Regions from separate parts of the Homo sapiens genome. Here regions 2, 3 and 4 are each linked to region 1. Evidence: fine-mapped expression QTL. A gene starts in region 1. Each other region holds a variant in brackets. All regions are shown on one strand. Distances are from middle to middle.

Region 1 (8,195 bases):
ATGCATTCTGTTTCTCTTTTTCTTAAATTGTCCTCAGGAAAATTAAAATGCTGGGAAAAGTCAAAAGGAAAATGAAAACTTATATTGAAATGCTTTTTGACTCAGGTAGAAGTCGAAGTGAGGGACCCTGAAGGTTTTCTCCCAAATTAGGAAGCCGTCAGGATGAATAGATGGTAAATATAGAAACGGTGACTCAAATAGAAGAGTGACATCAGAATGGAAAACTTCCAAAGAAAGCATGAAAAGAATTAGGATGTTTACATAGAACTAATTTGTTGGGGAATAACACACAAGCAAAGACGAAGACAAAGACAAACTTTTGTGCAATCTTGGGGAAGAGTGAGAGTGAACACTCATCAGTGTCCCTTGGCTTTCTGATTGCTCCTTTTGGAGGTGCACAACCTGGTCTTTGGGCAACTTTAGCATCTCCCTTCATTTCTACAGCTTCCATCAAGAAGTCAGGCCTACCCTCATTAACTCACAGTTGCCTTTGTAATTAAACTCAGGCACGTGCTCATTCACTCACTACTCTTTTGCATCAAAATTCCTTATAGGATACATGGATTTTATTAAGTAATCTTTTTATTCACAGTATCTGGCTTGGAGTCAGCAGTATTCATTCAATGAATGAATGAACTCACTTTTATGAGGAGAACCACCTCAACTAAAGACAAGCATTTAAAAATTTATACTCTGAATTCAACTTTCACTCAATTCTACTATCATCTCCCCTAATGTGCCCTTTATTCATATGGCAATAGTGGAGTGGTGCCATATGTGGACTCTATCACGTGGCCTGAATTGAAGTTCATTACACACTTAGTAGCCATATGCCTTTAATCTCTGTACCTTATGCTACTCATCTGTGAAGTGGGGGTATTAATCGCACCTACTTTGCTTTGGGCAGCATTTCCAGTGGTGGTCTTCCACTCACATCTCTAGGGTTAGCAACTGCTTCCACTGTCAGTTGCTAATCTCTGGGTTACTCCACCACGACATCGTGCATGACTTTTCAGCTCTTCCGTGGCTCTTGTAACTAATTCCCCATATCAGATTCCCCGTTTTTCTTAACTGATAGAGCTATTATTACTATCATTTATCATTACCTTTGGAGTCTCATAATCACTTTCCAAAGACTCCTACTTTCTCCCCCACAAAAATCTCCTATTTCTGTACTCATAAGTACAGTTGTCTGTTGGCAGAAAAATATTCTTTGATGTTTTGCTGCATGTTTGGGGACATGTGGAAAAGCTCCTGAGTGACCTGCCATTGTTTTCTCCCTTCCTGAACTCCCAGGAAGACTGCCTCATCACCTGAAATTTTGTTTGTTTTGATGTCAGGGCTAAAATGTGCTCAAAAAAGACTGCTGCCCCTTTTTGGCCACGTCCAGGCCAGGCTTATGGTCACCGTGTGCTCCCAGACCCCCACCACTTTGGCAGGGAAGCCTTAAGACTCTGACCTCACTGCTCACAGTCACTCTGCTTCCACTCACTCAGTGTGAGATAAGAGAAGATTCAAGTACCGTCATGTATCACTGAACCATGGGTATATGTTCTGAGAAATGTGACATTCGGCAATTTTGCCATTGTGTGAAGGTCATAGAATGTATTCACACAAACTCACATAGTATAGCCTACTACACACCCAGTGGTCCCCAATCTTTTTGGCACCGGAGACCAGTTTCATGAGGGTGGGGATGGGGAAGGTTTTGGCATGAAACCGTTCAACCTCAGATCATCAGGCATTAGATTCTCATAAGGAGTGTGCAACCTAGATTTCTGGCATGCACAGTTCACGAAGGATTTGTGCCCCTGTGAGAATCAAATGCCGTTGCTGATCTGACAGGAAGTGGAGCTCAGGTGGTAATGATTGCTCACCTGCCACTCATCTCCTGCTGTGGGGCCCGGTTCCTAAAAGGCTAGGGACCAGTACTGTTCCCAAAAGGCCAGAGACCATGGCATGTTACTGTATTGAATAATGTAGGCAGTTGTAACACTGTGGTAAGTATTTGTGTATCTAAACGTAGAAAATACTACACATAGTATTTGTGTATCTAAACATTGTGTACAGTAAAAATAGGATATGAAGGATTAAAAAATGGTGCACCTGTATAGGGCATTTACCATGAATGGAGCTTGCAGGACTGGAAGTTGCTCTGGATGAGTCAGTGAGTGAGTGATTAGTGAATGTGAAAGCCTAAGACATTACTACACACTACTATAGCCTTCATAAACACTGTACACTTAGGCTACACTACATTTATTAAAAATATTTTTCTTTAATAATAAAGTAACCTTAGCTTACTGTAACTTTTTTACTTTATAATTTTTTTTAATTTTGACTCATACATTAGCCCATACATTATACATACATTACATTAGCCTAGGCCTACACAGGGTCAGGATCATCAATATCACTATCTTCCATCTCCACATCTTGTCCCACTGGAAGTTCTTCAGGGGCAATAACAGGCAGGAGCTGTCATCTCCTATGATAACAATGCCTTCTTCTGGATACCTCCTGAAAGACCTGCCTGAGGCATTTTTACAGTTAACCTTTTTTTAATATATATAAGTAAAGGAGTACACTCTAAAATAATGATAAAAAGTATAGTATAAATACATAAAGCAGTGACTTCGTTGTTTTTTATTACTGTAAAGTATCATGTGCTGTACATAATTGTATGTACTTTACTTTTATGTGATTGGCAGTGCAGTAGGTTTGTTTACACCAACATCACCACAAACACATCAGTAATGTGTTGCACTACAACATTATGACTGCTATGACATCACTAGGTGATAGGAATTTTTTAGTTCCATTATAATCTTAAGGAACCACCATCTGTGTGGTCCATCATTGACTGAAACATTGTTATGTGGCTCATGACTGTGACTGTATGTCCTTTCCTCTAGCAGGCTCTCCTCCCCTTGCTCCTCTGCTTCACCCTGTCCTGTGGTGTGAAGTGGTCACCTTGGATTCAGGACTGGGAGAGTGGCAGGGCCAGCCCTAGAGTGAGCCCGGAGAGGTGCCCTCCTCCCAGGGGTGTGCAATGCAGGGGTAGCTTCAGAGGGAGCAGCTCCTTGCATTTTACATAATAGGCTCTTCTCTTGCCTCACACCAGTCCCTCCCCCAGTCCCTCCCCAGTAGACTGGCCTTTTCCACCGAAATGACAACAAAAAACCTGGAATGTCAGGGTTGGAGAATGCCTTTAAGTCATGTGACGCCAGTTTCTCTAAGTGTGGTCCATGGAGCACCTACAGGAGACTTAGCAGAGTCTAAACTGCAGATTCCTGGGCCCAGGCCCAGACCTACAGATTGAGAATCTTTGGGAGGTGGTACAGGAATCTGCATTTCAATAAAGAATCTCTGGCACTTCTTATAAATCAGCAGCTGAGAACTTCTACTGCTAGGTGCTTGCTTACAATACAGACACACAACAGCCTCACAAAGCAGCCTGCTTCAGGTCTAAGAAGGCCACTGTTACAAAGTTTATGACATGGGGCACAATTCAGCCTTCTTGTAACTTCATTCTATCTCAGATCTGGCCGTCTGCAATGACTCGGAATCAATTTAATCCCTTTTCTACGTGGCAGTCCTGAAGTCCATAGGGCACCTCTCATTACCTCAGCCCACTTTGAGTACCTTCACACTCTTTCCTAAGCAGCCGCTGTTCGGTCCACCCTTTCTCGTGTGCCACCAACATGCAGGGAGGGCAAGGGGTGAGAAGGGGCTCGCACCAGAACTAAGTCCCTAGGTTTAGTGCCTAAGGGACTGAAATGAAATGTTTCCCGCGGGAATTCCTAACTCCAAGGGGTCGGCCATGTTTCCACAGCTCCCAGGGTCGCTCTGCTGCCCCCCTGCGGGCCTGGGGAACACTGCAGGGGTATGAGCCGGCGGTGGGGCTGCTCTCCCCACACGTGGGAGTGGGAAATGGAGAGAACCCGCCCCTTAGAGGAAAAGCCACGAGTTGCTGTTGTGCTGCAGGAGAGAAAGGGAGAAAGAAAGCGTGCGACAGGGAGTGGGAGCCCCAAGTCAAGAGGAGCCCCACAGAGGCAGCCCTGGACTTCGGGACCACAGAGGTGCTGAGTGCTGCCCGATTCTGGATCCCACTCTGCTTAGCTCAGGTGAGTCCGGCAACCCTGGGCAGCCTGTGAAGTTGGAGAGACAGTCCTAGCAGAGGGTTTCTTGAAATCATTCTTAGGAAGATGCCAATGTGCTGATTATGCTTCCTGGAAAGAAAATGACTACATTGTGGAAGTGCTTTTCTTAATTGTGTGGAGGGAACGAAAACAATCTTCACTGAGTCTAAGGGAGATGGGTTTTCTGGAGAAGAGAACAATCGTAAAGGAATAATTAACTGCAGGGCGAAGGCAAGTTGTGTGGGACTCTTAGAAACAACCTACCGGCTGCAGGACAGCGAGTGGGGACCACAGGCATCACCTCCATGTCTTACCTATTGGGGCTGTGAGCAAGTGGCTTTGACTTGGTCATTTTAAAGGGGTGGTAGAGCTCAAAGGAAGTGCATTTTTCATTTCCTAGGAGCCAAACAATGAAGGCATCCTAGGGAGGTTGTGGAATGACTCTGAGACACAGTAGGTATGCGATAACCTCCACTGAATTCATGCATTCGGGCATGGTTAGGAGAGAAAACAGCACAGGTTACACAGAGAGCTACAGATAAGAAAGGACTGTGTCCTGAGCACCCGAAATGTTTGTTGAAAATATTCAACAATACTAGTTAACATCTGCTTTGAAGGAACAGGTATGGGGATGGTTAATGTCTAATATTCAATGTTATTCAAAACCAAGAGTGAGTTGGTCCTCACAGCTGATTTAGGAATAAATAGTTTAATTTACCAAGCCAATCAGTAAAAACACAATCATATATATATATGTGTGTGTGTCTACACATACACACATATATATACATATATATATGTTTACTGTTGATTCATGACACAACTCAGAGGTTAACAAAAGTAGAATTTTACAAATTTGAACTCTAAAACTGGGAATGTTAGACAGACATAGAAAGTTTCTCAGACCTAGTCCTATTGACATTTTGGAGCAGATAAGTGTTGTTGGGGACTGCCCTGCTCCTTGGAGGATGTTTTTCAGTATCTCTGGTCTCTTTATCGACAGCCCTGCTCCAGCCATGACTATTAAAAATGTCTCCACATATTGCCAAATGTGCCTTGGGGATCAGATCACCTCTGGTTGAGAACCACTGAGATATATCAATTGGACTGAAAATTGAAAATGCATTGAGCATATCATTTGGCAATTATTATTGATTAATTCCCATCGTGCCCTTTATTATCACTCAGCTGCTAGGAGAGGAAGCAGCAGGGGCTATTATCACTGCCCTTCTAGGTGCAGAGGCAGGTGTGAGACACACAGTCCTATCACAGCATGCCCAAGGATAGACTTGTAAGTCACTGTTTGTTCACACTGGAGAGAAGGCACTGCCCGGCCTGTTACCCCAATCTCTTCCTGTTTCAGATTTCTAACAAATAAGAAAACTTTCTATCAAATAAGAAAAAATGTACGTTTTCTTAGTAGAAGATATAGAAGGTATAGAAATTGACTAAAATCTGTGTCATTACAGATTTTAGTCAATCATTTAATGGATTGCATTGACATGAATCCATCATTAGTATGTATTTGCTCTATTGGGCATCTCTTGCTGTTGAGGGACCCTCTTTTGGAAGAGCTGCCGCTTCAAAGGGCTCCAAGGAACGTGCAGTTTTTTGTGAGTTGTTCAAGTCCCCACCATAATAGTGAATAGGTCTTTTGTAGTGTATTTGAATCTGCAAATTCACACAGTGAATTCTGTGAATCAAAAAGCAGATTCACTGCTATTTTCTCAAATTGCAGCTTTCTTTGTGGGCTTCCTCTGAATTGAAATAAATCCATATCTTGGGTCATAAAAACCAAATCACAAGGGGGAACATACAACTGGGAAATAAGCCTAGAAAGAATTGGCAAAATATCACTGGCAATCAAAAATGTAAATTAAAATAATTAATTTCCACTTTTGCCTATGAGAGTAATAAAAATGCATTAGTCTTTCAGCCACCCAGTGCTGGTTAGGTGTGGTGAAACTGCCACTCTCATATTGCTGGTGGCACTGGAAATGGATACAGCTCATTTATAAGTCAATTTTACCTCAAATCCAAAAAGTTGCTTATGCTTTTTAATTACATAACTATTCCAAGAGATCTACGTGTGCATGAAACAAAGCACTTTTCATGGAGAGAAATGTCTCTTAGGATTACTTGAGTGAAAAGTAAATATCCAACAAGAAGATATAGAGAAATATAGTTTGATATAGCGTACTCTGTGAAATATAATTCAGCTGTGAAAATGAGAGTTCTGAAGACCAAATGGTAACAGAAAGAATGCTTATGTCAAAATGTGATGTGTTCACTTAATGTGCCTGATTATTGCAACCATGTAAAATGTGTGTACATGCACATATGCATATGTATATATGCATATACTTAAAAGCTCCAAAATACTAACAGTTGGGCTGGAAGTTCTGCAGTTGTTTATAATGACTAATGATTTTCTTTTCTCCTTGATCTAATTTTTCTGTGAATTCGCTTTTGTAATTTTTAAAGAAAGTATTCCAAAAGAGAAAAATCTTGCCTACCACCATCACATCATCTCTCTTCTTTTTGTGTCTGCTCCCTGGTGGACTTACTCCTTTTCTGCTTATCTATCTCCTACATGCTACTTTTTAAAAATCTCTGGACTTTTGGAAAGCAAACTACTTTTCATTTCAAATAATACTTCTTGAATTTTAAGAGGTTTTAAAAAGAAGTTTAAAATTATAATGGTAAAACCTGCTAATGGGGGAAAAGGCAAGGCAATATTTGGGTATAAAGTGGAAATGAAAATACTACCCACGCCTGCCTGCGGCACATTCCTCCCTACCCCTACCCCAGCCCCAGTGGCCCCATATCCCTGTACCTGCCTTCATAGGGAACAGTTATTCACAGTGGTTTAGTGTTTATGCTGCTGATCTTTTTCTATGTGTTTACGTAGATCTACAGACATTATTACATGCACGAGGTCATATGATGTGTGTGTGTGTGTGTTTAACATTTTATTCCTTGTAAGGGAAGTTGAACACAATATGCAAAGTTTGTCGGCCAGCATTTGAGACTGTACCTGGGAATTCTGTCTTCCCTTTCGGGCTGGATGCCAAAGCTGAGTTCTACTGCCACTGCTACCTGTCTCTTAGGGAACATTCTTTAAGGCGTGACAGAATTCACAGCACATCATTCTTTTTTTAGTTCTCATCCATCTTGCCAGTTTATGAAAATAACAAGCTTGAAAGAATAAGAGTCTCCTCATTTATAAAATGGATCTAATACCTGCGACTTGTGTTGGTGTGTTCTATTGGCTGCCACCTCTTGTGGTCTGATATTATCAATAAAGATATCACTGTTTTTCAAATTGATGTTTCTACCTTATTTGCAGTTAGTGGCTAAAGGGATCAGCCAATTTAGGACATTTGCATTAAAAAATGTATATGCAGCTCTATTACTTTTTGTGGTGAAACATTGTTCTTCAGGATTCACAGGAGATTAAAGCGTGACCTCTTACCCCAGGGAATGGCCCAAGGTAGAAATGTCTTGTTATAATGTGACACAGACCCATCTCGTTAGTTTCTGCAAAGCTGCTGTGGATTTGAAGACTGGAATGTCTTAGTTTGTAGGCGCTGATAGAAACCGTTCAACACATTTCAAAGGAAGTTTGTAAATCAGTGGCGACTCCACCAGGCAAGTGTAAAGAGATGGCTCTTGTGTCTCCTCCCTCTGTTCTATCCCTTCTGTGATCCAGGAGAAAAATGCTGTGGTTCGTGGCTGGAAGATGTGAAGTACACACTCTCCCTGTTATGTGAAGTGCACCCTCTGTTTTCCCTAAGAAGGGTGAGGAAAGGAACCGACCTTCCGGGCCTTTAGGAGCCGTGATGGGCCATGGCCCCTTTAGATAACTGGGCTTATCACTGGATCCAGGAGGGTTGTTTTTCCAGGCAGGGTTTTAAGTGGCTTAGCTTCTGTGACACCCGTGTGGCAATCAACCTCATGAAGTGTGGACATCAACAATAAATCTGTAATTCATACAGTAGCCATTTGTCCATGGCTTGGGGCCTACTTGTTATGTAACAAACGGATGTGCAC
Region 2 (8,195 bases), 32 kb after region 1:
TCCTGCTGAGCCTCTTCCTCTTCCTCTGGTTCATCCTGGGAAACTACTGGGTCTTTTCTGTGTACCTGCCTGATTTTCTTCCCCCTTTCCAGCAGCCTCAGGACTACTGTGACAAAACCCTGTACCTCTTTGCAGTCGGAGTCCTGGCGCTCAGTCACACTGTGCTGGTCTTGCTCCTGCTGTGCAGCGGCTGTGTCTACCTGTGCTCCAGGTGGAGACTTGCTGCCGATGAAGACTGACAGCTGCCTTGTCCAGCATACCATGTATGCATATGCGTGTGCATGCACGCGCGTGCACACAGACACACAGACGCACACACACACACACACACACACAGGTTCAGAGAAGGGCATAAAGGTAATAAAACCTTCCCTGAAGGCATTTAAAAAGCCACCCAAAGGCACTGAATATAATAGCAGACTAAAGAAACTCTTGCCTTCCTAGACATGGGGAAATCACTTCTGCTCTTTTCAGAGTGGGAATTTTGTTCTCACAAGAGTTTTCAAAGGGATAATTGTTTTTGAGGGTATGAAGTGTGGGAGGCAAAGAATGGGAGACCTTTTCAAATCATAGTGCAATTTCAATGACTGGTGCAAGAGCAAGGTTGGTTGTTGCTACTGCTGCTGTCATTCAGCCATGGTCACCTTGAAGTTATAGAAAGTGCACAGACTTTCACACAAGATATATCTTAACTTCACTCGCTATGATGGCTTTTGTTATTAAAAGGAAAAAGATATTCTTTTAGTGACTCTAGCTGCCTTTTGGGAAAGTGAAGGAGCAGTCTCTTCCAGCCCTATATCAGATAGGTTTGACGTGATGGGTGGAACATCCCAAGGTCAGCTATAAAATCTAACAACGTCAAAGCAGTAGCTTCCACATAGGGGGCGGGCTGGCCTGCTACAGGCATTGCGGAGTGCAGCGCCGTGTGCACCGTGTGCCGCTGCTGCAGGTTCTTTGCTTGGCCTTGAGTCTGTCTCTGCCTCTGGCTATTCAAGTACCTCTCTATGATCTGCGGCTGGCTGGGTGGCATAAACCAGTTTTGTATGTTTCTGGACAGGTTGCATGAGTTGGGGTGCCGTCAGTGTAGCTGTTTTTGGTTTCTGAGCTTAAATATCGAATAATAGCTCCTCAACCTAATGACCAGTTAGGCTTTGGAAGCCTTTTGTAAATTGAGATGTCTGGAAGTCCAGGATGACACCGAACAGTGACCACTAACCTTCCCTCTGGCTGCCGCTGTTGAGAGATGAAGTCCAGGTCTGTTGTCAGTGCTCGCTGGGGAGCCTCTTTATGAGCAAAAAGTCCCATGTTTTAGAATTTTGTATGAAGATACTGTCATGAGTGTTTCTAGGGCAGTGCCCAGGGGTGCGTGGCACCTGCTTAACCGTGCTTCTCTCAGCCACGTGCATAGCATTTCTGTATATTTACACACTGCTGAGCTGTGTTTATTTTTTAACTTTGTTATGTTTTCGTGCTTTCTCATCAAACCAATCCCTGAGTGGCCATGAATGGAGGCACCTCCCTTCATCAGAAGTGTCAGCTCAAACCAAGAGGCTCATTCTTCTCCGTAGCTTTAAGAGAAAGGCCCCGTGAGTCCCATGGGGTCTTCCCATTTCAGTTTAGAAGCACTCCCCGGGCAGTCACCGTTAGTCCCCCTTTCCTCCCAGGTGAGAAGAAAGTGCTTGGTGTGCCATCTGCTGGACAAAGGAAGAACAGCCCTTTTTTTGCCCCTGTCCCTAAGGGCAGTTTCTGTTTTCATTTTCACTTGAGCCATGGCAGAAGACCAGCGGGTGTGCAGTTTGCAGATCCTACCTCACCTATGATGCCCAATTCCATCCTCACTGTGTCCCACGTTGCCCTCTCTGTGTTGGGGACTGGGGAGAGTCTGTGGGCTATGATACTGGGGTGGACAGGAGTTCCATGGGCTCCTCTCCCACCCTCCTTTCCCCAGTCCATGACTCGTCAGCCATTCCCAGTCACTTAGCCAATGCTTGGACATCTGTGAGCAGCAAAGACCTGGGCCCAGGGACACCTGCATGACTCCCACATGAAAGCCTCTGAGGCTTCTGTTGCGAGGGCCTTGGCAAAGGCGGAAAGAGCTGTGAACAACCATGGGCATGAAGATTTCTGTTAGCAGATGGCAGGTACTGGTTAGTGCTTTGGATACATCAGTAGCTAGGTCTCAAACGTTGGACATTCCCAGTTTCTGGTAGGCATGAGTATCACCAGAGTGTTGCAGAAATCTTTCCCAGAGGGAGTGGTGGATGAAGTGTGCTCATTCTCATATGCACCCCACCAGCCCACCCCCAGTTGCAATGGAGAATACTGGTCATAGGTCCTAAATAATTGCTAAAATCTGGACTATATTTTTAGCTTTGAGTTTTCTTGTCACCAAAGCAGTAAGGAAGAGGTGATGATCTCTTTGTATAGGTCATACATCTTCCCTGGTTTGAGGTTACAGTGAGCTATGATTGCACCACTGCACTCTACTCTGGGTGACAGAATGAGACCCCATCTCTAAAAAACAAAATTACCCCCTTCTGGGGAAACAGGTTAGATCCTAAAGAAAATGTTCATGTGCATCCATTCATAGAGGGGACACTGAATGGTTCAGTGGGTGACATCTTCAAGCGCAGCAGGCTTTGAATGATAACTGATTAAGGCCTCCCTCAGGAGATGGTGAGATGGTTATGATAAGGCACATTTCAAGAAAGAGGCTCTGGGGCTAAGTAAGGCAAATGGTCTATAACTGTGGTTCTTTGAAGTCTGGCTTAATCCAGGGATGACACCCAGACTGTCTAGGAAGGGCTGAGCTGCGTGCCCTTTAAGTGATCACCTCTTAGTATAATTTCACTGAGCTGGAGGTGAGTGTAAGAAGTTCCTGGTTATAGAAGAAGTTATAATCCTTGGCATGGCCTGAAGTAGGCAGTCCACACTGATATGAAATGTGCTGTGTATACCTGGAGAATGAAAATGCCCATCTAAGACTGGCCCAAGAGCTGGGCAGCCTTCCTCCATGGGAACCTGGCAAGGCAATGGGAAGTGGACATGGGAACACCTGAACTTTCTGGATGCTATGAAACCTCAAGGGAACAAATTATGTGGCAGAGAGGGATAATCTGTTCTTCCCATCTGAGAAAAGACTGCAGCAAAGATAAACTATATGTTGAGATCATTTTATTTGCTACATCGGGCATCATTCTAAAAACCATTCTTTGCCTGAATCTATATAAATGACAGTTGAAAGCAGTAAAAGTGGGACTGTTTCACTGGAGTCAGCCACACTAGTGGTTCTCAAATCTTGGTGAACCCTGAGAGCTACCCAAGGACTTGTTTGCAATGCAGAATCACAGCCCCCAGAGACTGACTTGTGGGGCCCAGCTGGTTCTGATTCGGTGGCCAGAGAAACCGCATGTGTGCACTCGGGCCACACATACAGCCTGGACTGGCTTATGTCAGGCCCATCCTGGTTGTCACCATGAGGACAATATAATGTCACTTCCAGTACTTCGTGTTATTTCCTTCTCTTTTAGTATGAGAAGTGGCCAAGTGGTCAATAGCTTTCATCTTTGTGTAACTGAATCTTGTGCTTCATTTCCTTCTGGGCATTTTTCATTGTTGATGAAATAAACTTTGTTCAATTTGTTCCCCAGTGTCTTCCTTGAATACCCTGGGGGAAGAGAATCCTCCAGTCCTTGGGATGCTTCATTTGTTCTTTCTTCCAATGGGATTTCTGAGGGTAGAAGACTGTGTCCACAGAAGCTGACAACCTGTTCTAGGCAAATTTTGCTCCATAAAACTCATAATCCTCATAATCCTCAGGTGAGTAGATGAGTCTGTAGTGGAGAATTGAGAAAAATGATCTAACAGAAAATTCTTCTTAGTAATCCTAGTGATAATTTATCTTTTATAAGTATAGAACTAATAAGACAACTAGTCTGTCTTTTCTAGAGCTAGAATTTCAGTAGTTCACTTTTCAGGTTAGCCTAGCATCACAGCAGCTACGTTATCTTGGATATCCCAGGAGACAGCATTTTGCCATTGCAAGCAGAAGAGAAATAAGAGAAGAGTGTTTCCAAATACATCTGTTGTTTTCTCTCTCTCTTTTTTAAGAGATGGGGTCTTGCTCTGTCACTCAGGCTGGAGTCCAGTGGTACAATCAAAGCCCACTGCAGCCTTGAACTCCTGGACTGGGGTAATTTTCTTACCTCAGCTTCTTGAGTAGCTGGGACTATAGGCATGCCACCGTGCCCAGTCAGGTTTTTTTGGTTGGTTGGTTTTTTGTTTTTTGTGGGGTTTTTTTTTTAAGAGATGGGGGTCTCACTATGTTGCCCAGGCTGGTCTCAAACTCCTAGCCTCAAGCAGTCCTCTTGCCTCAGCCTCCCAAAGTGCGCAGATTACAGGCATTAGCCACCTCACCCAGCCCTGTTGTTTTCTCTAAGACACTTCCTTTGTTATACTGGTCAGCTTTTAAAACTTACTGCATTGTTCAGAGAAGTAAGCTCTGCTTCATAGGCAAAGGAAAAGCAACTGGGACTTGCTGCTGGTATTAAGAGTTTGCACATACAGCATGTTCCCAAAAAGGCTTGTGACTCAAAACGTCCCTCTGTTCTGATTACTTCCTACTTACCCTATTGGTGAGGGAGGGGTCCCTGTCCTAAATAGTGGGAGAAGCCCAAATGCAACCCTTCCCCCACTGGACAGATGTGATGGACAGCAGCTTATTAGTCACTAGACTCACTGCCTGGGGGAGGAGGACACAGCATGTTATGCAGGGCCACATGGGGCTTGCACTTGGGAACAGAGTGGACCGGCAGGGGCCGTGGGGGTCATGCCTTGTAGTAGCAAGAGGACCAGGTAACCCTGTGTTCCCATGGGAGGAGTTTCCTGTCTTGCTTGAGTAATTTCACAGACGGGCAGTGAGGGGAAACCCATTAGGTTGGTGGCTGGGTGAGTGGTGGTGACTGACAGGGTACTGGTCAGGTGGGAGACCTTGCCTGCTG[G/A]GTCAGGGGCATGCCTGGTGAGGGCAGGGGAACTCACAGAGGAACTCACAGTTAAGCCCTTGGGCCTCTGTGAGGCTCAGAGATGTCAAGGCAGCCCAGAGAATTGTAGGCCTTAGAATACAGCCTCCTAGAGCCACCCCTGCCTTTCTTTGGCCTTATTCTCTGGGTTATCTAGTCCTGGGTTCAAATCTGTCTTTGAATTTCCTCAACTTCTCAATGCCGGAAGGGAGATATAATCAGTGGTGAGATATACATTGCCAAGGAAGTGAAAAAAATAAAAAAGTCTTCTTGACCACTAACAGTAGCCAGATCAGAACCCTCGCCGCCTGCTTCCTGAGAGCAGGCTGGCACATCCTCTTCTCCAGCCTTCCAGTGATTTTCCCACCACTGCAAAAGTCTTGCTGTCTGATCGGACTCTTGCAAACTGATGTTTTTTACTCTTTATATCTTTTTTTGAGTATTTAAGCTGCTATTTAATACAATGTCCTGTAGCCTGTACCTTCCCATAGCCATCAAAAAGAAAACAGAAAAGAAAAACATTTCCTACATCAATTTACAGTTTATACATTTGTTTATAAGGAAGCCAGTTTGGGTTCGATTCCCAAGTCACTGGGGAAAGGGGTTGAAGCCCAGATTCCCCTGGGATCCCTTCTGGCAGCCCAGCGTCCCCTCCCGCCCCCAGCAGCAGGTGCTGGCGCTAATGGCGCACACCTGCACCCTTTTGTGGGGGCCGCCTTGGTTGACTGGAGCCAGCTGGAGCCTGAGAGTTCTCCCCGCTCCCAGTTCACCCCACCGACAGCCATAGCTAAGGGCTGAGTCGGGGAAGAGGGAGGAAAAGCCCAACTCCCTTGTTTCAGGGCAGGTCAAACTTGAGGCATTTATGCACCAGAGCTGCCCGCGGGATCAGGTGAAAGCAGGGCTTCGTGGAAAGCCACATCCTTTCCCAGCGCTTCCCTTTCCCCAGTGCTTCCTCCCTTACCCTAGTTCGTTTCTCCCAAGGCCACACCCTCAACACATCCCTTATCCCAGAGCTTCATCTCAGACTCTGCTTCCAGGGAAGCCGGCCTAAGCCAGGGTTATTTCTCCACAGCTGGAGGCATGACATAAATTACTAGTATATCCCCTTTTACAACCCTTTTTATTTTCCTAAAATGACAATTTTAAAGCTTTATTTTTATTATAAAAGTGATACATGCTATGGCTAGAGATTCAAATCGTGTAAACGAGTATGAGGTAAAAAGTAAAAGATTTGAAGCACCCCCCCAACTCCCGGTCCCCAAAAAGGTACCCAGTGTTAATTCTGTAGTATCCTTTTGGAATATGTCTATGTATCGTTAAGCATAAATATAGGTACTTTTTACCTACATTATGTCGGACTAGGCTGGGCGTGGTGGCTCATGCCTGTAATCCCAGCATTTAGGTAGGCCAAGGTGGGCGGATCACGAGGTCGGGAGATTGAGACCATCCTGGCTAACATGGTGAAACCCTGTCTCTACTAAAAATACAAAAATTAGCTGGGTGTGGTGGCGTGTGCCTGTAGTCCCAGCTACTTGGGAGGCTGAGGCAGGAGAATCGCCTGAACCCGGGAGGCGGAGGTTGCAGTGAGCCGAGATGGCACCACTGCACTCCAGCCTGGGCAACAGAGCGAGACTCCGTCTCAAAAAAAAAAAGAAAAGAAAAAAAAATTATGTCAGACTATTCATATTATTTGACAAGCTGCATTTTTCTATTTCCTGGATCATGGATTTCTTTCCATTACCAGCGCAGAGCTCTGCCTCAAACACGACTAATATGTATTCATAGGACTTATTTTAAGAGGCTCATCCTCTGTAACTTGCCTGGTCTCTCATTTCTGTGAATCAAAATGGGAAAAGCAGTAATGTGAAACTGTATTTTGACAAATGAACAGCTGAGAGGTCAGTTTGAGAAACTGTTTGCCATTCCTCCTGTCGTGTACCTAAGTAGGCCCCTGGCTGAACTGGGCTCCTAGGGAAGTTCGTTGCAGGGCCTTTGGATTAGGCACATGATGCACCTGAGGGAGACTCACCTGGACGCGACGACTCATCGAGCTCCTGAGAGGAGAGAGGTTGATTAGGGTGGATGCTATTCTCTATGTTCCCCAGGAGTGTGAGAGTCAACAAAATCCCACCATCACCAAGGAAACCATTAAAAAATCCCAGCACTTTGGGAGGCCGAGGCAGGCGGATTACGAGGTCAGGAGATGGAGACGATCCTGGCTAACTTAAAAGTATAAAAAATTGGTCAGGCGTGGTGGTGGGCACCGGTAGTCCCAGCTACTCGGGAGGCTGAGGCAGGAGAATGGCGTGAACCCGGGAGGCGTAGCTTGCAGTGAACCGAGATCACGCCACTGCACTCCAGCCTGGGCGACAGAGCAAGACTCCGTCTCAAAAAAAAAAAAATCAAAGCCACCTACTTAAGGACCAAACTATCCTTCCAATATCGTGTGATTGTGTGAATACCTACAACTGAGATATATTCGGCAACAGATACAAGACGGAAGCAACACCTGAATATTGCAGAAGGTATAAAATGTATGTTGTTACATAACAAAAATTAATAATGTACCACAATGAGGTGCAATCTCATACGCATCAGGATGGATGCCATTAAATAAAAAAAGGAACGAACTCTGAAGATAACAAGTTGGTAAGAATGCGGTGAGCCGGAGCCCTTGTGCAATACTGGTGGGAACATAACGTGGCACAGCAGCTATGGAAAACAGTAGGGAAGGTCCCCCCAAAATTAAAAATAAAATTGCCATATCACCCAGCAATTCCACTTCTGGGTATACACACAAAAGAACTGAAATCAGAGTCTTAAAGAGGTATTTGCACACCAATGTTCATATTAATATTATTCACAATAGCCAAGAAATTGAAGCAATCCAAGTGTCCATCTATGGATGAATGGATAAACAAAATGTGGTTTATACACACAATGGAACACTATGCAGCCCTAAAAAAGAAGGAAATTCTGAAACTTGCTACAACATGGATGAACCTGGAGGACATGTTGCTAACTGAAATGAGCCATCCACAAAAAGGCAAAGTGTGATTCTACTTAGATGAGGTCCCTAGAGTAGTCAAATTCATAGGGATAGAAAGTAGAATGGTGGTTACCAGGGGCTGGGGAAGGGGGCAATGAGGAGTTCTTGTTTAATGGATACAGAGTTTC
Region 3 (8,195 bases), 23 kb after region 1:
CAGTGAAATTAATCTCATGCTCCTGAACATTGCTAATGGGAGCCCTGTGTACAGGACCTAGCTACCCCTATTTACCTAGAAGCCCAGCATGGCTGGGCATGGTGGCTCACGCCTGTAATCCCAGCAGTTAGTGGGGCTGAGGCGGGCCGATTGCTTGAGCCCAGGAGTTTGAGACTAGCCTGGGCAACATAGTGAGACCTTGTCTCTACCAAAAAATGCAAGTCTTGACTTAAAAATTAGCTGGGTGTGGTTGCGTGTGCCTGTAGTCCCAGCTACTCGGGGGACTGAGGTGGGATGATCGTGCCACTATACCTCCAGCCTGGGCAACAGGACTGAGACCCTGTCTCCAAAAAAAAAAAAAAACACAAAAACAAAAAAGAAGCAGCTCAGCAGGCCCAGTGTTCTAGGTCCAAGCTCACAGCATATTGGAGCAGAAAGTAAAAGAGCATAGGAGTTGTTGCAAAACAGCAACAACGAAACACCCAGTACCCTAATTGCTTAATGGGTAGGAGCCTTCCTTTTGAGGTGATGAAAATGTTTTCGAACTAGATGGAGGTGGTAGTTGCACAACACTGTGAATCCACTAAATGCCACTGAATTATTCACTTTAGAATGGTTTCTTTTGTTATGTAAGTTTCACCCTGCCACCCCTGCTAAAGCCACAATACTAAAAATGGAAACAAAAACAGTATCCTTAGATCTGTAAGACATGAAAGCTAACAGCCTGACAGGAAATAAAAAAGAAGATAAGATTTTAAGGTTTGCAGAGAACTGAAACAGCCAAGTAGTCTGGGGCCATTTAGTGTAAGAGTGAACAATTCAATCACTTCAGCAGGCCCTGGTGCTGTGATTATTACAGTGCAATTCAAAAATTAACACTTATTATATGGCTCTGTTCTTCCAAGAAGAGTTCACAAGATGTTAGGCATGCCCTGCTTATGAAGTCGGGGGTACTCTCCAGAGGGCATTCTATGCAAAATCTGTAAGGTAAGAGAACCCTAGCCTTTGGACCCTGTGGTTAGTTACCTTTCTTTTTGCTTTCTTTTGAGACAGGGTCTCACTCTGTCGCCCAGGCCGGAGTGCAGTGGAGCGATCTCGGCTCACCGCACCCTCTGCCTACCCGGCTCAAGTGATTCTTGTGCCTCAGCCTCCTTAGTAGCTGGGATTACAGGCGCCCACCACCATGCCTGGCTAATTTATATATTTTTAGTAGAGACAGGGTTTCACCACGTTGGCCAGGCTGGTCTTGAACTCCTGACCTCAAGTGATCTGCCCGCCTCGGCCTCCCAAAGCGCTGGGATGACAGGCATGAGCCACCGCGCCCAGCCAGTTATCTTTCAAATGAACTTAACTGCAACAATTCATCCACCAATAAGGCTGCATAAAAGAGACAAGACCCCACAAGCCAATTCCCATGGATATTATATTAAAATCACCACATCCACTGCGGAAAGAGGGTTTTGGAGGTGTTATTGCTTCTAGAGCAATATTGGTTATAGAGTTTGTGTTTGGGGTGATGAAAACATTTTGGAAATAGATAGTGGTGATGGTTGCACAAGATGATGCATGTAATTATGCCGATGAATTGTACACTTAAATATGGTTAAAATGGCAATTTTTGTTGAGATATTTTATCACAATAACAAATATTTTAAAAATCACTACATTTGGTAGTTGTTATCAACTGAACTAGGGAGAGATCTAAAACCAAAAAGAATAATCGTGATACTGCAGATCAGACAAGAAAGAAAATCTAGAGTTAAGGTAGGTCCTAAGAAGTACATGAGAACACAGGGGGAAAGATGGCTTTTATTAAATTTATTAGGATCGTTTTAAGCCATCTGTGCACTGATTGACTCTCCTGTGAACAGCAGCTGTTTTTATTCATTGGGAATGAGCAGATATCTAAGCCATTACTCAATGTTCATTTCACAGCTGGCTTTTGAATTGAAAGGCAGTCCATGTCCAACAAATTTGGCACCAAGTACTTAAAGGTCTTTGTGTGAAAAGGCTGTGTTGAGACTTGGAAAGTATTTCCATTTAATAACAAATTCACCTAAACATCAGAGATAACTAAAAGACAAGCCTCCATAGGTTGATGATTGGATCAACGTGTATATTTGACTAAACTCTGTTTTGGGCCCTGAATTTATGGCTCTCTGTATACCTAGAAAATTTTGTTCATTTCAATGGAATATGGTGTAGTCATAGAAAAACAGTTTACTCCCTCTGCTTAAGTATCAAGGCATTTATAGGGAATAAAATTCCAAATCAAAGCTAAAAGTCTAAATGTCATTTAAACAGGAGGCTTTGGTTCTACAGTAAGAATTCCCTTTCTTGGACTCTGTTGACAGATGTGTTAGTCAGGGTAACTTAACTGTGCTACAGCCACAAATTAACCCTGGAATCCCAGTGGCTTAACACTGTAAGAGTTTATTTCTTGCTTACGCAAATTCCATCATGGCTCAGGGGGCATGGGGACTTCTCAGGCAATGTGATGACATAATAGTCCAGTCTGCTTCAATCTTGAGAACAATCCATCTCCACCCATGGTTTCCAGGTGGTCAAAGCAGAGGAAGCAAACAACGAATCATGTATCAGTTTTTAAATGCTTTGGCCTGGGCTGGGCACAGTGGCTCAGGCCTGTAATCCCACGCTTTGGGAGGCCCAGGCAGGAGGATCACTTGAGCCCAGGAGTTTGAGAACAAGCTGGGCAACATAGTGAGTCCTTCTTCTCTACAAGAAAAAAAGAATTAGCTGTGCATAGTGGCACATCCCTGTGATCCCAGATACTCAGGAGGCTGAGGTGGGAGAATCGCTTGAGCCTGGGAGGTTGAGGCTGCAGTGAGTTGTGACTGAATCATGCTACTGCACTCCAGCCTGGGCAACAGAGCAAGACTCTGTCTCAAAAAAAATAAATGCTTTGGCCCCAAGGTGTCCCACAGCCCACTGGTCAGAACTGGTCACACTGCCTTGCTACCCAACAAGGGCACATGCTGGGCAGTCAGTGTCTCCCATAGCAAAGGTGTGTGTTAGAATTCATCTGGAGCTTGGTTGTTTGAGCCAGACTGGTCCCTGAGGGAAATGGGCATTTCTTCTTTATATGTTAAATAGACACATCATATCATTGGTTAATAGGTCTAGGGAACAAAGACCTGAGAAAAGTAGACAGAGCATTGCTTTGGGGAGAAAAACTACCATTAAGAAAGGGTAGACTGGGTAGGCTGGCTTGGTAGTACTCTGTATCTGGTAGCTAAGGATATGTGAGTACACGCGTGTTTCCCAGCATGGGGTCCAGCGAGTGGCATGGTCAATGGTTATCATATGGTGACTGTGACTAACACGGCAGAGGGCTTGCTGCACAGGGAGGAAGAGCGGCTCCTCCCTGCCACCTGGCCCCTGGAAGCAGAGTAGATGAGAACCTCATTCACGCAGAGTCACATTTTGGAAATGTGACTCATAAATTGAACCTTATTTTAAGCATATCAAGAAAACCGTATATTTAAAGGGATCCTTTGAATCCTGAATCCTTGAAAACTTGAGTTCTCATACACTGGCTATTCAGAAAGGCAGAGTGCAACCCATAGCCAGTTAATACCCAGAAAAAAGGTGCAGCGACACCTGGTCCCTGCCCTGTCTGCGGGAGTATTTATCGCCACTCCGCTGTGAGAGCCATTTCTGCGGTGTCAATCCACTGAGCTTCCTGAGGATCAGGTGACTGGTGAGGCTGAGCAGATCCCACAAGCATATGGTTTGCATGATTAACATTTTGGCTTTTGAAGGTGTTCCACTCATTTTCAAAACTGGGCTTTGTGCTCTCGAATGTATTTCTCTCAATCCTCTTCTGTTTGCCCTATGTAGGAATGAAATTTTTGGAGGACTGCCCTATACAGCCCCTCATTCCTTTATATTTGCTAGTGGGTGGCATCGTCGGTACCTTAAAGGTAAAGTATCTTTATCTGCTGTTTGTAGTCCTTGTAGAAATTAACTCACAGGCATCCTGTAATGCACCTGTTATTTGCCTGCTATTCACAGGGGAGACAAAACAACTTCCCCCTAAGCGTGGTTGCTGAAGTGATGGGGCTAGCTCCAGAGACACAGATTTTTCCAGATGCAGGGCATTTACCCAGGGCTGTGCATATTTGCAAGAGCTTCCTTCCTGCTGTTGAGTTCAATGTGCTAAGCTGTGGCTTTGGTCTGACAAGAGTTGATGCAGAGGAGTCCCTGACTGCCAGTTATACCATTGAATTCAGCCAGTGAAATCATGGTCTTTCTCTGCGCTGCTGCTGCTGCT[GCTTTTTTTTTTTTTGCT/T]TTTTTTTTTTTTTTTTTTGAGGAAAAAAAAGCTTCCTGTTGAAGGCAGGGTTTGCATTTGGTTAAAATATGTTTGATTTAGCAGTTCCTATTTCTGCTTTTAACTATACTTCCTAGTTCTCAATTGACTAACATAGGATTAATTGGCTGCAGTTATCAATCAACTATTAAAGTATTCTTATGCCTGAGGTAGGAGTGCTTCTCTGTGACTCTCAAGGTTATGTAGTTAATCTGCTCCTGGGCTGTATTGACATTTGTTTAAACAGAAAAAGCAACTGAAGAAGAAATATCAGGGGCGTGCATAGCCTGCAATTGTTTTCAAGATCCCTGGCCCACAGAAATGTTACACCTACCAAGAGAAGCTTAGGTCAGCCTCTGTCTATCAACAACTCTTCCCAGTCTTCCAAGCCCACCTCACCACTTTCTATATCAAAGCCAGAAAACACAAGCATCCATTTTCCCAAGATGGTTTCATAAAAACAAAGCCGTAACACAAGAGAAAACTGAGTCAAGAGTGCCAAGTATGAACTCTCATTCGGACCCAGTGTTGGGTTTCTTTGCCAGCTGCCTTCTGGTGCGGGGATCCTTGGAGAGATCCTGGCCAGTGGCGCTGGTCATGCTGTTGATCTAAGACATCAAAGGAACGTCTTGAAAATTGCTGTTCTCATATGCAATTGGTAGCCACAAGCTCAACTCTGTCGTGGGAGACGTCTGATTTGGGGCAAACCTTAGGAGGCTTTTGTGTTTGAGGTAACCTCACTGTTAAATGTCCCCATCTCCTAACAGCAATCTGGTGGGCAGTGTCCTAAAATGTACAAGTACACACAATCATCCCCATCACAACATCCCCATGGGATCTACCTGGGACTCTGTTCAGCTCCAAGAAAACCCAAAGGCTCTTGGCTCAGCGGGGCCACATTTTCCCCATGGCCCCCACAGTGTTAAGGGAAGGCTCTAACGGTTTGAGTGCCATAGAGATGCTTAAAACAAGGGCAGCGTTTTCAGCAGTAATTACCTCTGCCTCTCCTGTTCTCACTCATCGTCAAGCTGCCCAGCAGAACTTTCCTTTAGAGATGCTACTGTCCGTGGGGTCTGTTCCTCTTAAAAACAGCAAACTTTTCCTTTCTGAAAGCCAGCCCAGGACCCAAAGGTAATTTATTTTAGTGAACAAACTAAGGCCCTAATAAGCAGCATTGATTTTTTGCCCTGGCAATCTAAAACCGTTTGAAGCCAAATTAAATTTTTGTGCTCATGATGGCAAGGTAATATACAGTGAGTCCATAACCATTAGAGCAGCGGCAAACAGGATTAGAGTCCCCAGAGGCAGAAGTTTGCCTGTGATAATGATGGTTTGTATTCAACCTCAGAACCTGCCTAGGGGGTCCCAACATCCTTCGTGAAATGCATCAGATAGCTTCACAGTATTGCATTCTATGAAGAGAAACTTGAAGAGATGTGAGCTGACATTTCATGGAGCTACCAGAAAGAACTGAGGGTCATGCCCCATTAAAAGATCAGGAAATGAATTAAGTAGGCTGTGTGTGACCTGCTTTTTAAAAAATAAAATAGAAAATTAGAGTGCCTAGTAAGTTAAGTATTGTGTGATACTTACATATGGACATGTGTGTGTTTGGGTGAGTTGACCGTGTAATTTATCATCCTAACTGGGACACTTTTGAGAGTACAAGGGGGCTCTAATAATCATCCTGCCAGAGCAACAGCATAAACCAGGACTTCTCTAAGCCAACAAGGACATGCAGTTACCCAGTGACTAGGACCTGGCATAAAATGTATTTGTTACTGAGGGTCATGTTAAAAGACAGTTTCCAAAAGACGGATTCAGTGACCATTGCCTACCCTGCACTCCCCCTCATCTTCCCACATCACCCTTCCTAGTGGCAATTGCTACCCCTAGTAAGCATGTGCTTTTTGCTGATGCCATGCTGACGGCTCTGCCCTCATTTGGAATTCATTCAGTCCTCACCGTGCCCCTTTGAGGCAGGTACTTGCTTCAGGAAGGATTCTTTGACTACAAGGAACAAAAAATCAACTCTGGCTAACTTAAGAGGTCATTGATTGGAAGAGCTCACAACCTCAAAGGTTAGTGGGAGAGAAGGGGGCCAGGTGGCTCCAGGAAGCCTGGGCAGTGGGACCCACTTGCCACGGCTCTTTCCTTGGGCTGGTTCCTTTCTCCTGGCATCATTGTAGCCAAGAACCAGTCCTGGGAGGGCAGCCAGATCTGGGGACACGTGGTGGGTGGGGGAATTCCTCCAAGGAATGGGGCCCTGCAAGGAAGGGAAATGCATCTGAGTGATGGAAACTTGAGCTGGACTCTCAGTTCCAGCTTACAGTGAGGAAACAGCGAGCTGGTGTTCAGCCTGGGCTTTCCCAACCACACAGCCACCGTCAGCCAACCTACTACAGGCAATTGGTTTTTCCCCTACCCTAAACCCACCACCCTTCACCTTTGCCACACCACTCCCCCTCAGAGGAGGACCCTCGCACCTCTCCTTGTGCATAGGGGTCCCAAGTATGCCCCTTCTTCCAGGCAGCCCTCCCTGGATGAGTCAGCTCTACTGTGGGTGGCTCTCTGAACTCCCCCAAGGCCTCACTTTCCTTTTCTTATGGAGATGTTCTGCCTCCCAGCCGGGCTGCAAGTCTTAGGCGAGAACCCTCCAATTTAATTTCCTCCGATTTAATCATCAGTGTACTGTGGTGTAGACAGTGGTCAAAGAGGTGTGGACCACTGCCCTTCTCATTCTCTTACTCACTGTGGATCTCAGTGAAGTGACTTAACTTCTCTGAGCCTTAGTTTCCTCATTTGGGCAACAGAGATAATACGCGGCCCCAGGCTAGGATGGACATTAAAGATCACACATACCAAGCATTAAACTAACCACTCTCCTTAGGTTTTGTATCTTTACATAAGTAATAACTCTCCATTTTGGAAAATCAGAGAATGCAGATAAGCACAAAGAAGAAAATCAAAATCATCTGTAAATTTCACCACCCAGAGAAAATTGCTGTTGACATTTTGGCCCAATGGCTCCAGTTTTGGTCCTGCGCCCATGTTTATTTAGTACCTCTAGCCTCAGGCTGGGAGAATTCATTGAGATAATGTATGTCAAGCGCTTTGCCCAGCACCAGGGTCTATTTTTGTACAACATCCATTCCCAGAGTCACTATCACCTCCTCACGGGTAACCCCCAGATCTCTGCCAGGAGTCCTCACCTCTCTCTGTTCACCTCCAGGCTCTGACTCTGCCCCCTGTGGGCCACTAGACCCTGCATTTCCATCCAAAATTTTAAATGGAACAAGTCCAAATCTGGAGTTATCACCTACCCAAGGCACAGCTTGGGGTTCGCTGTTCCCATCTCTCTGTCTCTCTTTATTTTATCCTTGCTTCTCTTTACAGTTTGGAGCCCAGTTAGCTGCATCTCTTGGCTCCTGCTTGCCCTTCCATTTCACTCAAGCTCAGCATCTCTCCCCGCCTCTGCCAGTCGGCCACATCCTCCGTCATCCAAGGATTCTTTCTAATGCCCTGCTCTCCAGGGTTAGGGGTGCCATGAGTGTGGCCTCGGGAGAGATGGGTAGCCTAGGAAGCCAGAGAGAGCAGATACACAGGTCAGGCTTTCAAAAACATCACAGATCAAGTTGCTAGGTAGAGAAGACGGGGAGCTGTTAAGGCATTCCTTAGCAAAGACCACCTGTGTCCTTCCACCGCTGCATTTCCAGGGGGAAAGTGTGCTCCCCTGTGACAAAGGCATTTGTGGCCAGTTAGAGTCGGGTGGGTCGTGGTGCTTTGTGTAACCAAGTGGCAGCAGAATTTCGAAGGCGTGTCAGGCTGGAGTCAGGGACCATCTACCAGGGGCCCAGATGGTCTG
Region 4 (8,195 bases), 57 kb before region 1:
TGAATCCCTTCTCTCCCCCATAACTGCTCATTCTGTGTGGCTGCACTCAATAGATTATTTCACCCTTTGAATTAGATGCCTCAGGGAGTCCCCTTAGCGGGCTAAGTTAACCTTTGCAGGGGGTACTGACATGCCCAGGTACAGCCCAGCCCTGCATGCTGCTCTTTGCTCCAGGGACCCCAGCCTGGTCCACCATTTGCTAGGAGAAGATTTCAGTCCCTCCAGAACACACAGCCTGTAAGGAGCCACACTGGCTCCCAGAGCCCGAGCCCCAAGTCATCACTGGGTACAGTGCACGTTCCTCTGCTGTGCAGTGGTGGAGCTTCATCCTGGTGAGTCATTTGTTCTGCGTCTAGGTGTCTCAGTGAGACTCCTACCTGTCTGCTTCAGAGCCACAGGTGAAGCCTTCATTCTCAATCCGATTGAAGAAGAGAAGGCGGCATCACAGCTGAGTTGCTCTCCATCATAGAACCATGGGGCATTGTCCTCAGACACACGCTGACATTAACCGAGGCTAATGAGGCAGAGCCTCTCATAATAGCATTCTGTTTCTTTGGAAACCAAGGTGTAGTTTTTTAAGTGTCGCATGGCCCTTGATTACAATTTGCATTTCCTAGCACTTATTCTACCATTTTTACAGGGACCTGTGGCAGGCAGAGGGGCTCTGGGCAGCTTCCCTGCAGGATTCCACTTCCTGCTTGGGTCGACCGCGCCGCTGCGAGGGAGGGCTTGCCCCTTGCCTCCCTGCTCTCTGGGTGTTTCCTTTGTGAAGGGAGGGACCTGGCATGCTAGAAAGCATCTCAAAGCCCTGCTGAAGAGGAACTCCGGCTTCCCTTGGGTTGCTCTGAAGAAGGTGCTCTCCAAATGAGAGGGCCTCAGGAAGACAGTGGCATCTCCCTGACTGGGTGAGTCAGGTGCAGCTCTAGCCGAGGTGAGTGGGACCTGCCGTGTCCGAGGTGGTGACAGCAGGCACTGAGACTGCTCTGGAATCATGGCTCTCTGAGGTTGTTGCTCTGAAGTCCTGCCTCTGGGCCCTCGTCCAGTGTCGTGACAGCTCTTTTCTCTGGAAGAGGGAGGACAGTCTCTCTCCCTGCACGAACTGCCTTCAGCCTGACATTTCTTCTCCTGCTTAGGGCCGTTCTCTGTTGACTGCTTCGTGTTGTCTGCTGTTTCTCTTAGCTCAATGCTTCTCAACGAGGGTGCTTTTGACCTCCCCCAGGAGCATTTGGTAATGTCCACAGATATTTTACACAGTAACTACTGGAGGTGTGCTACTGGCGTCAAGTGGTTGGAGGGCAGGGATGCTGTTAAACACCCCACAGCACACAGAACAGACTCCCACAGCAATTATCTATTCCAAAATGTCAGTACTAATGAGGTTAAGAAACACTACTAATGATGATGTTCCCCTACCTGGTAAATAAAATTCAAGGTTTTCAGCCTCCACATCAGTACAGAATGAATGTTTCTTAATTGAAATGCTTGGAGCCAGAAGTGTTTTAGATTTAGGATTTTGGAATATTTGCATTATATTTGCTGGTTGAGCATTCCCAAACTGAAAATCTAAAATCTAAAATGCTCCAATGAGCATTTCCTTTGAGCATGACCTTTGAGCATCATATTGATACTCAAAAAGTTGCAGAATTTTGAGCATTTCAGATTTTTGGATTGCTCAACCTGTACTTTTCACAATATCTTGAAAACGGACCATGCTTATCTTTTCTCTTTTGATCTAGAGCCTCCTTCTTTTCCACGTCCATACCATGAATTCCTATTCAAGCCCAGAGAAAATTATTCATTACTACTATGCATTAGCTGCTGAAGGCCAGGTGATGTTTTCCCAGATCTGACTCATCATGATCATGATCATCAATTATCATTATCATCATCATCAACAACAATTACCTTAGGGTCATCATAAGAATTGCATATAAGCTAGCCACCAAGCAGTCATCAGTCATCTGCCTTTAGCCCAGTGCTACCTGAATTCAGTTTCTGTCATCATGTATTTCTTAATTTCAAAATAGGCAGCAGCACTAAATCTGGTCCATGGGCTCATTAACATCATCATCATCATCATCATTAATATTACCATCATTGTCATCATCACTGCAAAGCAGGCAACAAGCAGTCATTAAGCTCATGCTGATTCTGATGCTGATGGTGAATGAGAAGCAGCACTGCAGAAAACCACCTCATGCCTAGCATCCCAGGGCCACAGGTGCTGTGTGTTAGATTGAGTGTTCACTTGTCCAGTGTGAATGTATTTTTGTTAAGAGTTATTGGCCTTTGAGTTTCTGGTGACCAGATGCTTCTTTCTAAACACACACACACACACACACACACACACACGTGGAAGACTGTTGGAGAAACCCAAATGGTGTCATAGGAGGCAGGTGTGAGAAGACACTTTGGTTGCACAACCAGGTATGATTCTGCCAGAGCAGAAGACCCTATATGGTTCTCTTTTCTGCCCCAGCACTGCCTCATTATGGCTATGATAGGTTTATTGAAGCTAAAGTTTGGGCATTCTGGGGCAGCCTTTGCCCCACACCCACACGAGTCTTTTTCATTTTTCGGTTGCCACTGAAGTCTGGAAATAGCACTCTGCCTTTTCCTCTGGCCCCATAGAAACCGGGACTTCTGGGTGTTTAACTTAGCATCTGACTCCATTAGATGCTCAGGGTCTCCTGCACTTACACCTAGGGATAGGAAAAAGGGGTGTTCTGGGGAGAGTAGGGGGAGCAGTTTGCCCTCTATTTGGTGGCTTTCCTTGTACAGTGGAGAGAGCAGCCAGAACCTGAAGTGACAACTGAGACATCGTCATCTGACGTAGAGTCTCTCTTCCCTCCCTGACCTCGTTGGTGTGCCACCTCTCCCTCCCTCCCATTTCCAACAGCATGCTTAGGAATGAGTTATGAAGTGTCTTATTGGAAACCAAGACCTCAATGGCAATGAAGGGAAGACACTATAGTTAGTTATTATTGATCATCTCTACCTGCACTTTCTATATTTGCAAGCACTTTTTGGGACTTAGTGAGTAATAAATAAAGTGTCTCTAGATCACCTTGCTGCTTCCCACTGCTGCTGCCTCGTGCATCCAGTTCTAGTTGTGTACCTCCTGGATACACACACTAAGGAGGTGAGACCTTCAAAAGAAATGCAAAATATTTCCACAATTGTGTTTGTGTACAAACTGACCTGTCAAAACCAAAACTATATTTAGGTACTAGATTATAATCAACACCCCCAGTGGATGCTATTGGTGCCTTGCCCAGGGCCCCTTTACCAGGCGGATGCACTCATCTCCCAGCTTTGAGTATTGCTCACCGCAGCCACCTGCTTCCTGAAGAATT[G/T]CCCTTGCAGAGCAGAAGCCACCATGCTAGGAAGTTATCCACTCCCTCGGCATCACATAGCCAATAACCAATTGCTGTCAGGGCTGTGTTAGTTATCTGTTTCTCAAAATAAATTACTCCAAAACTTAGTGCCTTAAACGGACAATGAATATTTGTTATTTCACAGTCTGTGTGTGTCAGAGATTTGGGAGCAGCTTAGCAGAATGGTTCCCGTTTGGGTTTCTCAGGAGGTTGCCCACAGACTGTCCATCAGGGCTGCAAGTGACCTGCAGGCTTGACTGAGGCAGGTGGCCTTGCTTCTGGGGTGGCTCACTGGCCTGGCTGGCAAGGTGGGGCTGGTTGTTGGCAGAATGCTCAGTCCCTCTAACCATGGGACTCTCCCAAGTTCAGCTTCTAGAGTAGCTATGATAACATACTTTCTATAAAACCTATATTCTAAAATGTATTTAATAAAATAACTTTCCTCTAATTTTTAAATCTGCAACATTGCAGCAGTTCATTTTAGACATTGAGAGGCTGAACATTTTAGATTCTGGTTCTAAAGGCATGTGGGTGCCCTCAACATCAATAGCAGCAGCTAATAATTCCCAAAGCTTTTCCAGGCGCCAGGCCGTGAGAAGGGCAAAATGTGTTGTGATTCTGTTGAAGTAATGCCTACCACCCCTTCAGTCCCACACTGAAAATGTAACAAGGCAACTGGGAAACTGTCTTCAACATCAGTGCTTTTTTTCATTTTGCTTCTCTTGATTTTTACATCTTACAAAACTGAGAATCCACCTATATTTATTCTTTCATCCAATGCACGTTGGCTTCTGACCTCACCCCTGAAATGGCTTCTCCAGAGGTCTGCAGTAACCCCCCTGATACCACATCCCAAGTGATTCTTTTCAGTTTTTTTATTACATGACCTTTCCATGGAGCTTGACCCCAGTGGATAACTTCCCAAGCTCCTCCTCCTTGAAACTCTCCTCTCTTGGATTTTGAGCTTGGATGACAGAGTGAGAAAGGCCTGGCGTTTTTGCTCTGGACTGGGTAACCCAATGAAGCTATGTGGATTTTCTGCACAAATTTGGAATGTAAACACACCCAATGGGGCTTCTGCCCAGAGGATTGTAGCTAGGCTGGGCTGGAGGTAGGGAAAGCAGGGAGGAGGCTACGTGTTTGTGGGAGGAGGCTGATAAAGCCTGAACTCGGGGAGGCAGTGAGCCTTAGGAGAGCAGGTAGATTCTAGATACTTAGGAGAGCCACTGTCACAGAGCTTTGTAAAGGGACTTGGGATGGAGTGGGCACTGGGGGAGGGCAGAAAGGAAAATAGAGACACTGAAGATGTGTCCAGGCTTCTCCGGGGGTAGTTAGTAATGCCATTGACCCAAGTCAACTGATGTATTTCTGTGTTTTTGTTGGATTCTTCTTCATTTTTGACTTTCCTTGGCTATATGAATTTCCAGAAGTACCTGTTCCAGGGGCAACTGACAACTGAGAGGGGTGTGAGGCATGGGAGGGCGGGTGGGGCACAGGCAGCTCCACCGGGCGCCACCCCTCTAGCAGGAGTGGTTTCTTTATATGTACCAGGGATATTTCTGCATTGAACTCTAGACCATGTGGAACTTGGCTTTTTAGCAGGTCAAATGCCAGGCACAACTTTCTAGCTGGACCAGATGCAGCCACACTCAGGAACCGTGCTTCATTAAAGTGTGTGTGGACCCAGGTTCTCTTCCTTCACAATTTTGTGAGTACAGATGAGGTTGTGTGGACATTAACATCACAAATATGAGAAGGCTGGGCCTCACTTGAAAAAAAAAGAAAAGTTTTATTGAGATATAATTCACGTCATAGATGTCACCCCTCTAAAGTTTATAATTCAGTGGTTTTTGGTATATTCATAGAATTGTGCAACCATCACCACTTTAACATTTTAGAACATTTTCACCACCCTTCTCTCCCACAAAACTCTGTACTCATTAGGAGTCATGCCTTTCTCTTTCCTGGCAACCTTGTATCTACTTTTTGTCTCTACAGAATTGTCTATTCTGAGCATTTCCTATAAATGGAACCATAAAACGTGTGGCTTTTTGTGTCTGGCTTCTTATACTTAGCATAATGATTTAAAAGTTCACCTGTGTTGTAGCATGTATCAGTAATACATCATTCATTTTTATTGCTGGATAATAATCCATTTTATGGATATATCACATTTTGTTTGTCCACTCATTCGTTGATGGATACTTGGGTTGTTTCCATTTTTTTTTGGCTACTATGAATAATGCTGACATGAACATTTGCATACAAGTCTTTGTGTGGACTTATATTTCATTTCTCTTGGAGAGACACCTGGGAGTGGAATTGCTAGGCTATTATGGTAACTGTATCTTTACATTAACATTGAAGAACTGACACATGGGCTGCATCTTTTTTCTGATCCCATCAATGATGCATGAGAGTTCCAATTTCTCCACATCTTCACCAACACTGTTATTGTCTGTCTTTTTTATTTCAGTGCATATGAAGTGGTATGTCATTGTGGTTTTGATTTGTATTTCCTTGATGATTAGTGTTGAGCATCTTTCCATGGTCATTTGTATATCCTCTTTGGAGAAATGTCTATTTAACTCATTTGCTTATTTTTAAATTGGGTTGTCCTTTTTTTGTTGATTTGTAAGAGTTAATTTATTCTGGACTCCAGTCCCTTATCAGATCTGTGACTTGCAAGTATCTTCTCCCATTTTGTGGCTGTCTTTTCACTTTCTTGATTATGTGCTTTAAACCACAAAAGATTTTTATTTTGAAGAAGTCCGATTTACATTTTTTTTCTTTTTTTGCCTGTGATTTCAGTGTCTAAGAAACCATTGCCTAATTCAAGGTATAAAGATTTATTCCCAGGTTTTCTCCTAAGAGTTCCATAGTTTTAACTCTTGCATGTAAGACTATGACCCATATTGAGTTAATTTTTGTATGTGGTTTGTAATAGGAGTCCAACTTCATTCTTTTATAGGTGAATATCCAGTTGTCCCAGCACCACTTATTGAAAAGACTGTTCATCTCCCATATGATTGCCTAGGCTTGTCTAAATCAATTGTCCATAAAAGTAAAGATTTATTTCTATTCATAATTTAATAAAAATGTAGTTCTATTCCATTAAGCTACATGTCTAGCCTTTTCTAGTGCCATGCGGTCTTAATTACTATAGCTTTGCATTAAGATCTGAAATAGAGAAACTTGAGTCCCCCAGTTTTGTTGTAAGATTGTTTCGGCTATTCTGGATCCCTTGCATTTTTATATTAACTTTAGGGTCAGTTTGTCAATTTCTACATAGAAGCCAGATGACATTTTTGAGAGGATAGTGTTGAATCTGTTCATCAATTTGGGAAATATTGCCGTCTTAATACTTAAGTCTTCTGATTCATGAACATGGCATGTCTTTCCACTTATTTAGGCCTTCTTTAATTTCTTTCATGATATCTTACAATTTTTAGTGTATAAGACTTGCATTTTCTTTGCAAGTGCCAAATGTTGCTGATTAGAAGTACACTGGAAAAACCTTTCAGTCGCTATACCCTTTTCTGGCTTTTATTACTGTTTTTAATTGACACATAATAACTGTATATATTTATGGGATACAGTGTGATTATGAAGCCTTGCACCTATGTTGTTTATCTCAAGTATTTTTTCTTCTAGATGCTATTGTAAATTGTTTCCTTGATTTCATCTTCAGATTATTCATCGCTAGTATATAGAAATACAATCGATTTTTTATATATTGACCTCATATCCTGCAACTTTACTGTACTTGTTCATTGGTTCTGAAAGCGTGTTTTGTGGATTTTCCAGATAAGAGATCATATCATCTGTGAATAGAGATAGTTTCATTTACTTACCATTATTCTTACTAAATGAATTAATAAGTAAGAGCTGTGGGAGTAAGACATGCAGTCTAGACAGTCTCTAGAAGGTGGCCTTGACAAGGCCAGCAGTGATCAGCAGTGGATGAGAACAGGTTTAGTACTGTGAGATTGGAGCAGGGATTGAGGCAGAGAAAGTGAGGAGGAATGACAGGCAGGTACAAGGTAGAATCAAGTGAGTGGTAGATCAGGAAATCCTAGATAACAGGTTGCCGGTGGCACAGTCATTTTTATTACCTTTTTAGCATGCTGGGTGCCTCTCCTGGAACACATTTAAAGGACCCAAAGGACTCCTTCCAACAGTGCCGTCTTAGCAGGAAAAAGATATAAGTCTAAGCCATTCTTGTTGGCTTTGTGCAGCCAGGATAGGCTGTGAAGTAGGCAAAGGGCAGAAGAGGAGAGAGAACTAACATTTATTATCTAGTATGTGCCAACATTTTGCATATATTGTTTAGTTTAACCCTTACATTACTCCTACTTTTGCAAATGTGAATCTGATGTTTGTTTTGTAAAACATTCAGAAAATGCATGATATTTATGTAGTGGTAGCTGCCATCACACCATAAGTCAGTTGCCCATTTCTCCATCCATGAGGCAGCCATCCTCTCTATTATAAGGAGCTCATTTCTCAATTAGTTCTTTGAAAACTGAAAAGCATGTAGATATAGAACAATATCCTGCATTAGTGCTTCTTAACCAGGAGTGTGTCAGGAGAAAAATCCCCAGGAGTTTCTTGTATTTCTGCATGTTTATGAGCAGGGGCACTGCACTTTTGTTCTAATTATCTTTTTATTTTATTTTATTTATTTATTTATTTATTTTTGAGATGGAGTCTCGCTCTGTTACCAGACTGGAGTGTAGTGCCACAGTCTCTGCTTACTGCAGCCTCTGCCTCCCAGGTTCAAGCGATTCTCCTGCCTCAGCCAGTAACTGGGACTAC

Alleles and levels. Alleles are on the strand shown, and positions count from the first base shown. SD is a standard deviation of normalised expression in the study named. Not every link is listed here.
For the expression in Th1 cells of the gene that starts at base 3,966 in region 1, GCTTTTTTTTTTTTTGCT is the high allele of the variant in region 3 and T is the other (moderate effect, 0.72 SD a copy in Schmiedel 2018).

The links.
Region 2: its variant is fine-mapped to the expression of TMEM272 in whole blood (TOPMed, PIP above 0.99). The same link has a PIP of 0.9 or more in Th17 cells, blood mononuclear cells, naive CD4 T cells and naive CD8 T cells.
Region 3: its variant is fine-mapped to the expression of TMEM272 in Th1 cells (Schmiedel 2018, PIP 0.94).
Region 4: its variant is fine-mapped to the expression of TMEM272 in whole blood (INTERVAL, PIP above 0.99).

Annotation. Positions count from the first base shown.
Region 1 is chr13:51,840,948-51,849,142 of GRCh38, reverse strand. It overlaps TMEM272 (transmembrane protein 272), which reads left to right and starts at 3,966. Exons shown (of 5, transcript NM_001351003.2): 1 at 3,966-4,127.
Region 2 is chr13:51,808,795-51,816,989 of GRCh38, reverse strand. It overlaps TMEM272 (transmembrane protein 272), which reads left to right. Exons shown (of 5, transcript NM_001351003.2): 5 at 1-3,643. The coding sequence ends at 239. It overlaps LOC107984561 (a long non-coding RNA gene), which reads right to left. Exons shown (of 2, transcript XR_007063805.1): 2 at 3,158-3,833. Among named protein-coding and RNA genes, the nearest start is that of DHRS12, 8.7 kb to the right of the region's middle. The variant G/A (reference allele first, on the strand shown) is at 5,001.
Region 3 is chr13:51,817,804-51,825,998 of GRCh38, reverse strand. TMEM272 (transmembrane protein 272) reads left to right here. Exons shown (of 5, transcript NM_001351003.2): 4 at 3,862-3,944. Among named protein-coding and RNA genes, the nearest start is that of DHRS12, 18 kb to the right of the region's middle. The variant GCTTTTTTTTTTTTTGCT/T (reference allele first, on the strand shown) is at 4,295.
Region 4 is chr13:51,898,100-51,906,294 of GRCh38, reverse strand. It overlaps a transcript of TMEM272 not described here. Among named protein-coding and RNA genes, the nearest start is that of CCDC70, 40 kb to the right of the region's middle. The variant G/T (reference allele first, on the strand shown) is at 3,357.